2 separate regions of the Homo sapiens genome follow, and region 2 is linked to region 1. The links come from fine-mapping of genetic effects on gene expression. Tissue or cell type: tibial artery. Region 1 holds a variant in brackets; the other region holds the start of a gene. All regions are shown on one strand. Distances are between the middles of the regions.

Region 1 (5,203 bases):
ACCACTGCACACACAGGCAACTCTATATTCCTGCGGGGGGCAACCCAGGGCCCAGGACACCCAGTGCCCAGCCAGTTACTGCAGGCTAAGGCAGAAAGGTCCGGGCAGAGGCGTGCGTGGTTGTCCTGCTGCAACCCTTTGGTTGCAAGAAGCAAGAAGTGAATCTCTGCCACTCCCTACCTTCCCACACTCTACAAGGCCTCTAATCGAATGCACGCCCATCCTCAGGGAAGAACTTCAACACAGTGGCACGTGATTGCTGGCACTGCGTGGGTTTCACCCTCCTCTCGTGATTCCCCCTCAAAGGCACTGGGGTGACTGTAGGCGCACCTTGCCTGTGACTGGGGTCAGGCTGCTTGCATTCCAGTCCTGACCTGGCTGCCTCCTGGCTGTCAGACTAGAGTTCAGTGTCTTCATCTGAAAGCGAGGATCATAGTAAAACCTATCTCACAAGATGGTGGTGAGGACGTGATTTCAAAAGAAAAGGTCCTCTGCCAGTTCTCGCCATGCATCAGCGCCCAATGGCTGTTGGCCGTGCTCAGGTTGACCACCCTGCCATCTAATGGGAGGTCTTTGGGGATAGAAGGGGCCTTCCCAGACACATCAAATGCCACCAGCCAGGGTGCTGTCTGCACCCCTCATCCCTTCTAGGGAGTTTTTTTCATGGCAGTGGAGGGGAAAAGTTCCCCACATGAGTGTGTTGCCTCCTCGGGGACTTCCCCAAGGTATTCCAGAGAATCAGGACCCAACTGAACCTCAGCCAGGCCCGCCTGGCCCCAGCCACTTCAAGACTCTCATCTGCTGATACCACCTCTGCCCCAACCTGTGCTCCTGGTGGTCCTGGGAGCCGGAGGGTCACGGTGACGGGAGGGCCTGGCAAGGCATGGAGCGGGCCTCTTGCTGTGGAAGTGACTTTCCAGGCATGAAATGATGGCAGCCCACCCTTCTGCACCCCTCTCGGCCACACCTGAACCTGCAAACAGCCGCTGTAACAGCCAAGAGTCGGTTCCTCTCCTCTCACACCTTCCTGGCGTTCCCCGTGTCACCACATTGGCCCAGCTTAACACAAAACCCAGGAGAATCCCAGCAGCTGACCCTGGCACATGACAGGCCTCTCCCAGGACACTGGCTCTGAGGAAGCTCTGTGCGGCTGGGCCTGTTGCCATGAAGGGTACACCCTTTGTAAAGCAGAAGGTGACATTTCTTGGGTGCACGTGTTGGAGTCTTCTGATTCTTATTTTCCAAAAAGGCTGCCCATCAGTGTCTGGGGAAACCCAGCGCTGACTGACAAGCAGCAGACCTGCTCACCAGCAAGGTGCACTTCCTGTCTGTGCTGATGGGGCCGCTTCTGGGGGTGGGTGCCCGAGGCCCAGGGCAGAACAATGGACGACGTGCCTCTGCGGGGAGAGAGGGGCCAAGCTTCCTACCACTACTGTGCATCGTGGGGGCTGCTGCGTGGTGATGTGGCTCCTCGGGCCAAGCTGGGAAGGCGGCTCTTGCTGGGATTAGCACTTTTCCAAGCCCTGTCCTCCAAACATTATTCCTTGAAGGAATTATTAACCCAAAAAGCATCCCCCTAACCTCACCCCCATCATCTAGGTTTTTGTTTGTTTGTTTTCCAGACGGAGTTTCACTCTTATTGCGGAGGCTGGAGTGCAATGGTGTGATCTCTGCTCACTGCAACCTCCACTTCCTGGGTTTAAGCGATTCTCCTGCCTCAGCTTCCCAAGTAGCTGGGATTACAGGCACCTGCCACCACGCCCAGCTAATTTTTTGTATTTTTAGTAGAGACAGGGTTTCACCATGATGGCCAGGCTGGTCTTGAACTCCTGACCTCAAGTGATCCACCTACCTCGGCCTCCCAAATTGCTGGGATGACAGGCGTGAGCCACCCCACCCGGCCTATATAGCTTTTAAAATCAGGCCTGTGTACACAGGACATGCACAGAAATGACCCCATCCAAAATGTCTTTTCTGCTAAACCTACCTCTAAACCAATAGCTGCCACTACACGCAATTAGAATATTGAACTCCCTATACTTTCAGGCACCTGCTGAAATAGATCTCTTCCAACATCAAGCTCT[A/G]AAAACTGAACTAGAAGCTTCAGGAAGGTTCGCTGTGAACTTCTAACTCTTTATGACCAACAGTTTGCATACAGATTTGGAGCCAAAATAAACCCAAACTTGCAGATGTTCAAACATGCACTGGCAAATCTTTCCCCTGATGGAAAGAAACACATGCAGACCCAGCACTCGCACCCTTCAGTCAGATGGTAATTTAAGCTGGTTAAGTCCAAGCTGCAAGAGAACACTAATTGTGATACTGCAAGTCTCAAAGCAAGCTGTGCCTGAGGGCGGAAGGAGACCCCACTGCTGCATGTAAGAAGGGAATTAAGCCTCCAAGTGACAAGTCAAATGCAGTGTTGTTTTTTTTTCTCCCTTTCTCTGGGCAATGAAAAGGAAAGGGAAGAGGAACTGCCCGCTGCAGTCTTGGTGATTTCTTGTTAAGTACATATATAAATACAAGCGTGTTGAAAGCATATTCTTAATAAAATTATTAATAACTCAGGATGGGAGGAGACATCTGATGTGGGATCACAGGGGTGTGATTCTTAGTGTGTTCCTTATTTTTATGACTAGAGGCTGGTGTGCAGAGCAGCACTGTGACCAGCTCTGGCTGTGCGATGAGGGCTTGGCCATTCCTCGGAGTGCTTTCAGGTGCCTGCTGCTTGAGCTACCTGAATGGCCAGGAACCTGAGCTCAGCACTCTCCGAGATGTTGCACATGTAACTCTCCTGGAAGCTAAGGTGTTCTCTGAAATAAAACTAAAATGATAAAATACACATTGCCCACACATGCACACCCTGGTCAGCAGAATTTACGGCTGTCTTGTGTCCAAATAACATAAGGCAGCTCCAGAAGTTGGAAACAGAATTCTCTGCTGAGACTGAAACTAGAAAGAGCTGGCACCCAATAAACAAAAACAGCCACTAGCAGGAATCCAGGGAAAAGCACAAATGGTGCTGAGGAGATCTGGAAACACTCAAGTTTAAGGAAGGTGATCTGAGAAAAGAATCACCTTGTGCAGGCCAGGCACAGTCGCTCACACCTGTAATCCCAGCATTCTGGGAGGCTGAGGTGGGTGGATCATTTGCGGTTAGGCGTTCGAGACCAGCCTCGCCAACATGGCGAAACCCCGTCTCTATTAAAAATATAAAAATTAGCCAGGCGTGGTAGCACACGCCTGTAGTCCTAGTTACTTGGGAAGCTGAGGCAGGAGAGTCACTTGAACCCGGGAGACAGAGGTCGCAGTGAACCGAGACTGCACCACTGCACTCTGGCCTGGGCAACAGAGTGAGACTCTGTCAGACACACAAAATAATAATCACCATGGGCAGAGAGAACAGGTGTGCAGCAGGGGTCTGCCTGGGGCCCAGGAAAGGCAGCCTCTCAGGAGCAGCAGCCCTGCTCTCACATGTGCCTCATCTGCTGCACCAGCAGCACCCCAGCCCGGAGACACGGCAGGTATGGACAGAGCCTTGGCTACCCAGCTTCAGGTCCTGACCACTCACGCTCACTGCACAATGCCCCAGGACTAAGGTAATCTCCCCAAATCTTGCTAATGACAGAAACAGAGCTAGCCTGACCAGGAGATGACATTAGTCTTTGGAGAGCCAATATTTTATCCTTCACAGTAAAATAGGAAATCGGAAATTTGAATTCAATCTTCATTTTCATGAGTCTGGTCCCTGGGAATGTGTCCTGGATGATGGACAAACATGGTACCTAACCGCAGAGCCAGGTTACACCCAAGCACAGCCCCGCTTGGAGGCCCCTGATCTGGGACCCACCCAGCCCCTTCTGTAGCATCTTCCTTAAACCTTTTTGCAGAGGCATACACACCACACAGTACAGGAAGATGCTGGGACAAAAGAGCCACCGCACTGTTACCAAGGTCCCAGAGAGCAGGCGGGGCACTGGGCCCTCACTCCCCAATATGCAATCAGTCACCAAGAATAGTTGCATGTCCTTCCCCACCCTCCATCAAGTCCATTTGCCTGCTGGGCCCCTCTTCATCTCCACCACCATGACCCGTGGCAGGCTGCTGTTTTTTCTCACCGGCATAGTCCTAGCAGCAGCCTCCTGACTGGCCCCAACATGCAGTCCCACCCCACTTGGGCACCTGCGTGAGCCTTCTGCCTGCACATCCATCATGCGTCCCGCTGGCTCAGCACCCTTCAGCAAGTCCTCCACTCCCCCACCATCTGCAGAATTGCAGCCGCACCACTTACAAGGTTACAAGCTCAGGAGTCAGACCTCTGAGAACATGGTAAGGTGCTGCCCCTCTCAGCCTGCTTAGCTCCAAGGGCTGGCCTAGGAAGTAAACCTGGCTGGTCAGGCTTCGGCTGTGCTCGCAGCCTTGCTGGCACAATCCCAGCACTGCCCAGCCCTGGGGAGGCTGCTCTAGTTCTGCAGTGGCTCTCGTTCCTGACCCCAAGGTCTTTCATGCCTGCTGGCTAGCCCACGTGCTGAGCCTCCACCTGAACTCTCCTTCCTTCCCGCCATGCCCAGCTCATTCCACGGCTTATACTGCAGGTCTTAAATTAGGTACTGCGTTTTCTAAGATACTTCCCTTAAATGTTCCCACCTCCTCAAACTGGAATGTGTCTTTTCACCCCTTTCCCCCATACACGGCACCAGGGACAGCTGTAATAGTCCTTACCATGCTGTCCTGTAAGTCAGCAGTCCCCAACCTTTTTGGTACCAGGAACCAGTTTCGTGGAAGACAATTTTTCCATGGATCACAGTGGGGCAGGGATGGTTTCGAGACGAAACTGTTCCATCTCAGATCACTGGGCACTAATTAGATTATCATAAGGAGCGTGCAACCTAGATCCCTCGCATACGGTTCACGATGGGGTCTGTGCTCCTATGAGCATTTGATGCCACTGCTGATCTGACAGGAAGTGGTCACCTCCTGCTGTGTGGCTCAGCTCCTAACAGGCCATGGACCAGTACTGCTCTGTGACCCAGGGGCTGGGGACCCCTGCTGTGAGTGACAACTTTCCTAACTGCCAACCCCCCCAGGCCACAGTCTTTCTGAGAATCAGGAGTGTGTCTGAGGCCTGGCTGGATCCCATAGCACCTGTTACGATCATTATAAATTTGTCAAGTCAATGAATGAATGAATGAATGAATGAATG
Region 2 (5,129 bases), 63 kb after region 1:
CCAAAGACATTGCACATATTTATAAATGTTCTTAGAAAAGGATTTCTAGGGGTAGCACCTTCCGCTGATTCTGCAAATCAACCATTCTTCTTTTTTTACAGATGAAGCCTCGTTCCAAGTCACACAGTAATATATGGAAAAGTTCTAGTTAAGGTTCTTAAGTTACTGGCCTCCTGCGATCTACTTTGCCACTAATGAACCTTGTGATTTGGGGTAGTTCCTCCTGATCTCACGTTAAACATGTTTACTGCAGCAGGATTCCTTGCCTGGGCTGAATGCCCCTTCTAGGTCACTTTCATCCCATCTTCTGCTTTCCCCACTTTTCTGAAATTGCCTATTTTATCCTCTGGAGCCTCTACTCCTCCCTACCTTGTGTTTGTTCTCTCTCTCACCCCCACACACATACACACCCTGTGTTGTGCAACACAGCAGCCATTAGCCACAGTGACTATCGAGTACTCCAAATGTGGCTAGTCCAAAATGAGATGTGATTTAGGCATAAAATACACACTAGACTTTGAAGGTTAAGTGATCTGGGGGTCCCGAGATTTTTCCTTTCACAAAGACATAGTAAAAAACATGGAATCTTCCATGAATAACTTTATATATTGGTTACATGTTGAAACAATAGTTTTAATATATTGTTAAATAAAATATATTATTAAAATTAATTTCACCGGTTTATTTTTTAATGTGGCTACCGGAACATTTTAAGTTACATATATAGCTCGCATCATATTAGTGCTGGACAATGCTGACCTGTACTGAAGGTTCTGTGAAGAATCTTTGGGTCATTTACCACTGTACTCCCTTTGCCCCCTCCCCACCCACTAGCACAACACCTGGCTCATAGTATGTACATAATCAATAAGTGTTGAAGCAGGGAAGTCTCTAAATCTCTCTATACATGTATTTCTTCATTGATACACTGTGAGTCTCTATTCACAAGATAATAAAAGTCAAGAAATTTATTACCCATTTTGAAAGGTAAAAAGTATATGAATATTACTGCTTTTGTTGAAAAGCATGAAAATAACGTTGATCCCTTAGGCAACCATCTGTATTCCTAAATATATTTTTTGAATTGTATTACACAAATACTATAAATTAAATGCTGAAAACGGTGGAGAGTGAACAGCTCAAGTGGGAAAACTAGAAACAGCCAAAGGAAAGCTGAGATACCACCACCAATGGGAAGGCAAACGGAGCCCACAGACTTATGATGACCATCTTTATTGTTCTGTTTTAATTTAAAAAGCAGAAGGCTCGTGGTGCTGATGGATTCCAGTGCTCATCGGAATATAATACAAGTATTTATCCAAGAGAGAGACAGTCTGTTTCCAAACTTGATCACTCGCCAAAAAAAAAAAAAAAAAAAAAGTGAATACAATTCTCTTTACCAAAATACCCCAGTATTGATATGCAGGTCCCAAACACACAATAGTTCTTTCACAAACTGGGTAACCAGGACACAATAAACACGACATGCGCACGTGAAAAGTTAGCTAGGTTTTCCCTGCCCTACCGTGAATCCGCATTTGCAACACTCCAGCCCCAACACCCAAACCACTGCTGACCCAGTGCTGAGGGACATGAAAAAAAACACAGCCACATTGCCATCCCCACCCAGTGTGGAAGCTGACGGCATGTAGAGATGTGGGTGGGTGGAGCGCAATGAAAAAGTGAAGCAGAAAGACGACTCATCTAATCCAGGACCATTCAAAGACCCGTAAAAAGGTACTTGTCTTTGTTGCGGGCTTTGTAAAGTCTTGTCAATCCTTCCTCGAAACCAGCCAAGTACCAAGTAACAAAATCCTTAACCCTGTGGTTCACATGAATACACCCCGGCAACTCTCAGCTGCCAGAGCTGGAATCTGGCAACTTCCCTGGACGGGAAAGGCTAGCCCACCGCCCGGGAAGTGAGGTGCGGGCAACAAAAGAACACAGGGTGGGGCCCAGAAACGGACGGGACAAATGGAGCAACACAGATTTTCCAGAAGGCCTCATCAGCGCAAGCAGCCAGCAACAGGTTGCCCTTGTTGCAGAAGTCACATAACCTAATCAACTCTGAATCTTTTCTCTCCTCCCCACTATCTAGAAACAGCTCAGGACTTAGGACTCTGTTAACTTCTCTGTCCACAAGAAAAACTTCTCTGTGCTCACAGGCACACACACAGAATCTGAGGAGAAAGAGGAAATTACAGAGGACACCCGTTTACTAATGATGTGGGGGGGGCGGTGGTGGCTTCAAGAGCGTAGTTTGGGAGCGAAGAGGAGGGCAAAAAAGAAGCCACATCCATTCGGAGCTCAGCTGACCTCTCGGCAGAACAAGTGTCAACGCTTTCAAAGGGCGCGGCTTGTTTCAGCCACGAAAACGCACCGGCTGGCAAGGCAGGCGGCTGGGGGCTGCCTACCCGGAAGCCGGGTGGGGTGGGGGCGGGAACACCTCCGAACCCCGACTCCGCGGTCGCCGCCCAGGCGCGCCGCCCCTCCCTCCGCGCCCGTCCCCACCGCGGGAAAGGGCACCCCGGGCTCGAGTCGTCGGGCAGCCGACGCCGGCGAGACGGCAGGGCGTCGGAGCGGAGGCAAACCCAGCGCGAACGAGGGAAGACGTTACCTTGTTCATCCCATTCCCCATGGTGGCTGAAGGCGAACGCTAGCGCCCCGGCCGTGTGGTCGCAGGCGCACTATGGCATGTTACAGGGAGGAGGAGCGGCGGGGCGGGCGGGGAGGAGGCGCGCGGGAGGGACTGAGTGCTCGCAGTGTCAACAAGTCAGCGGCAGGGACCGGCCGGGCAACCCAGGGCGCTCCAGAGACCCGGCGTGGAGGGCAGGGCTTTCTGTGCGGCGGCCTAGAACTTCCCGGCGGGAGCCGGGCAGGGGCACCGGAGCCTATGCCGGGAAATGGTCCCGCCTTGCCGGTCCCCGCCCCCGTGCGCACCGGGCAGGCCCAGCGTCCCTCCTCGCTCCGCCCGCCCGCACCCTGGGATTCGTAGTCGGGTTCCTGGCTGCCGCGCCCCACTCCGCCCTCGCGGACCCCGGCTCGCGGCCGCCGGGCGTGGGAGGCACTAGGCTCGGGCTCCCAGGCGGCCGGCCCCGGAGGCCAGAGCGCGTGCGCGGCCCGAGCCGCCCCGCCGGGACACCCGAGGCTGCGCGGCGGGGCCTGGCGGACGCGCAGGCGCTGCCCTGACCGGGCGGCTGCGCTCGTCTCGGAGCCCGCTCCCCGGCCGGGGGTCTCCAGATCCCCCTTTGGCCTTTTCCCCTGGGGCGACTCCGGGGGCCAGTTACCAGCAGTCGCTACCCAGCCTTGGCTGCCTCCGTGAATCAGGTGCTAATCAGAGGCCTGGTCTCTGGGGGCTCCCCTGCCTGGGTTTTCTGAGTGCGGCAGATTTAGGCTGGGGGATTTCCTGCGGCCCTGCCCCATGCACCAAGACCGAGAAGCCTCGCCTGGTGGGGAGAGGTGGGCTACGTGACTCACCCCGGGGAGGCCCGACCTCCCTACCCTGGGGGAGCAGATGGCTGGATCTCTGACCTCAGACCTCACGGCCTTAGATGATGTGTGTCCCTTAATGTCTGCATTGTGGTTCTGTCTGGAATGGATCAATTTCTAAACTGTAGCAGAATTGTTTTGGGTGTTCTATCAACGTTATTAAACTCTGAAGTTTCTCTCCAGCGACAGAATCCTTGAGCCAGTGGTTTTTCTTCTTAATTTATGTATCCTCAACAATGTCCTGAACATAGTAGGTGCTTAATAAATATTTGCTGAATGAGTACATGCGTCAATCTGACGTGCCCTGGCTCACCCCTGCTGACTTCATTTTATCTTCTTGCTAAGCGAGTTACACACATGCTGGTCTCCTGTCTGTTCCTTGAGCCTGTCAGGCTTGCTGGGCTGTGCTCTCTATCCAGACACCTGGATCCCCAGCTCTCTGCATACCTGCCTGTTATCGCTGAGGTATCAGCCCAAATGCCATCTCTCCTAAGAGGCTTTTCCTAACCACCCAATTCCAGGTTGGTCCTCCAGTCACTATCATATTACTCCGTATTATTGATCGGAAATACATGTATTTGCTTTCTTTTTATCTGTCTCACTAGCCAGCAACTTTCAGATTAAAAAAAAAAAAAAAGTTGTCTTATTCAGTAATACAGCCATGTGGCCTGGGACAAAATCTAGCACAAAATAGTGATTTTTAAAATATTTGTCAAATAAATTAATAATTTCTTGTGGCCGAGAAAACGGGTGAGGTTCTGAGGAATGTGAACGTTTGGAAAGAGCTTGTAGACTCCATCTGTCGCCATTTCTGTACTTGTACCCCATATCTTCTGGGCAACAAATGGTATCAAAACCCCCCGTGTAGAAAGCCCTCAATCAATATGCGCTTGCATGTTTTCTCTAGGTAGAATGGGACCCAGACCCGGAGTGCCCTTTCTGCCTCTTGTTTTGGGAGAGTGTTCCTTCTTCACTGCCTTCACTTCCTCTTCTCCCGCCTGCTTCTCAGTCACCTGGACAGCCTGCCCTTTCCCCTCTGCCACACACTGCCATTAAGTAACTGTTTTTACCACCTTCCTGCTTAGAGACAACACAGAATCGTTAGTGGACTGCCTGGGGAATCCCAGTAATCAGCCTCTATTTCTAATTCTTAAGGAGGTCTTGAGCAAGATGATCAACTTTTCTGAGCTAGCTTTTTTTTTCTCTTTAAAACAAGAGCATTAAACTGTGAATTTTTGAAGCTTCTATCCAGCAACCAATGAATTACTTCTGCAGCCTTCTGCCCTCCTTGGGCCATTCATCCAACAGTCAGATGAACGTTTAAGAACACAACCAGTTCATAAACTGGTACTTGACCATGAATGACAAATTCATACTGATTTTTTTCTTCTGTCATCCACTTGCAATATTTCTCTCTTATTCATACTCTTCTTGTAGATATATTTCTCCAGCTTGGACCATCTGCTTTTCCCCCTAAACTCAGAACCTGCCATGGCTTCCTCCTTACCGTCAAAATCAGCATTCAGTATGGCCTAAAAGGTCCACATGCCCAGAGTTCCTATCAAAATCTCAAATTTTTCTTTTGGGTTAAATAGGAAAAGAGGAGACTATTAACACCAGAAGTCAGAAGAGTAAGATTT

Evidence for each region. PIP is the estimated chance that this variant, and not a neighbour inherited with it, causes the effect.
Region 2: it holds the start of DUSP22, and the variant in region 1 is fine-mapped to the expression of DUSP22 in tibial artery (GTEx, PIP 0.91).

What each region holds. Positions count from the first base shown.
Region 1 is chr6:353,069-358,271 of GRCh38, reverse strand. No RefSeq gene overlaps it. Among named protein-coding and RNA genes, the nearest start is that of IRF4, 36 kb to the left of the region's middle. RefSeq lists enhancers at 1,938-2,167, 4,245-4,294. The variant A/G (reference allele first, on the strand shown) is at 2,085.
Region 2 is chr6:290,049-295,177 of GRCh38, reverse strand. It overlaps DUSP22 (dual specificity phosphatase 22), which reads right to left and starts at 2,691. Exons shown (of 7, transcript NM_001286555.3): 1 at 2,618-2,691. The coding sequence starts at 2,638. RefSeq lists silencers at 1,399-1,458, 1,469-1,528, 1,408-1,564, 2,309-3,328 and enhancers at 1,959-2,218, 2,511-3,011, 3,012-3,512, 3,439-3,728.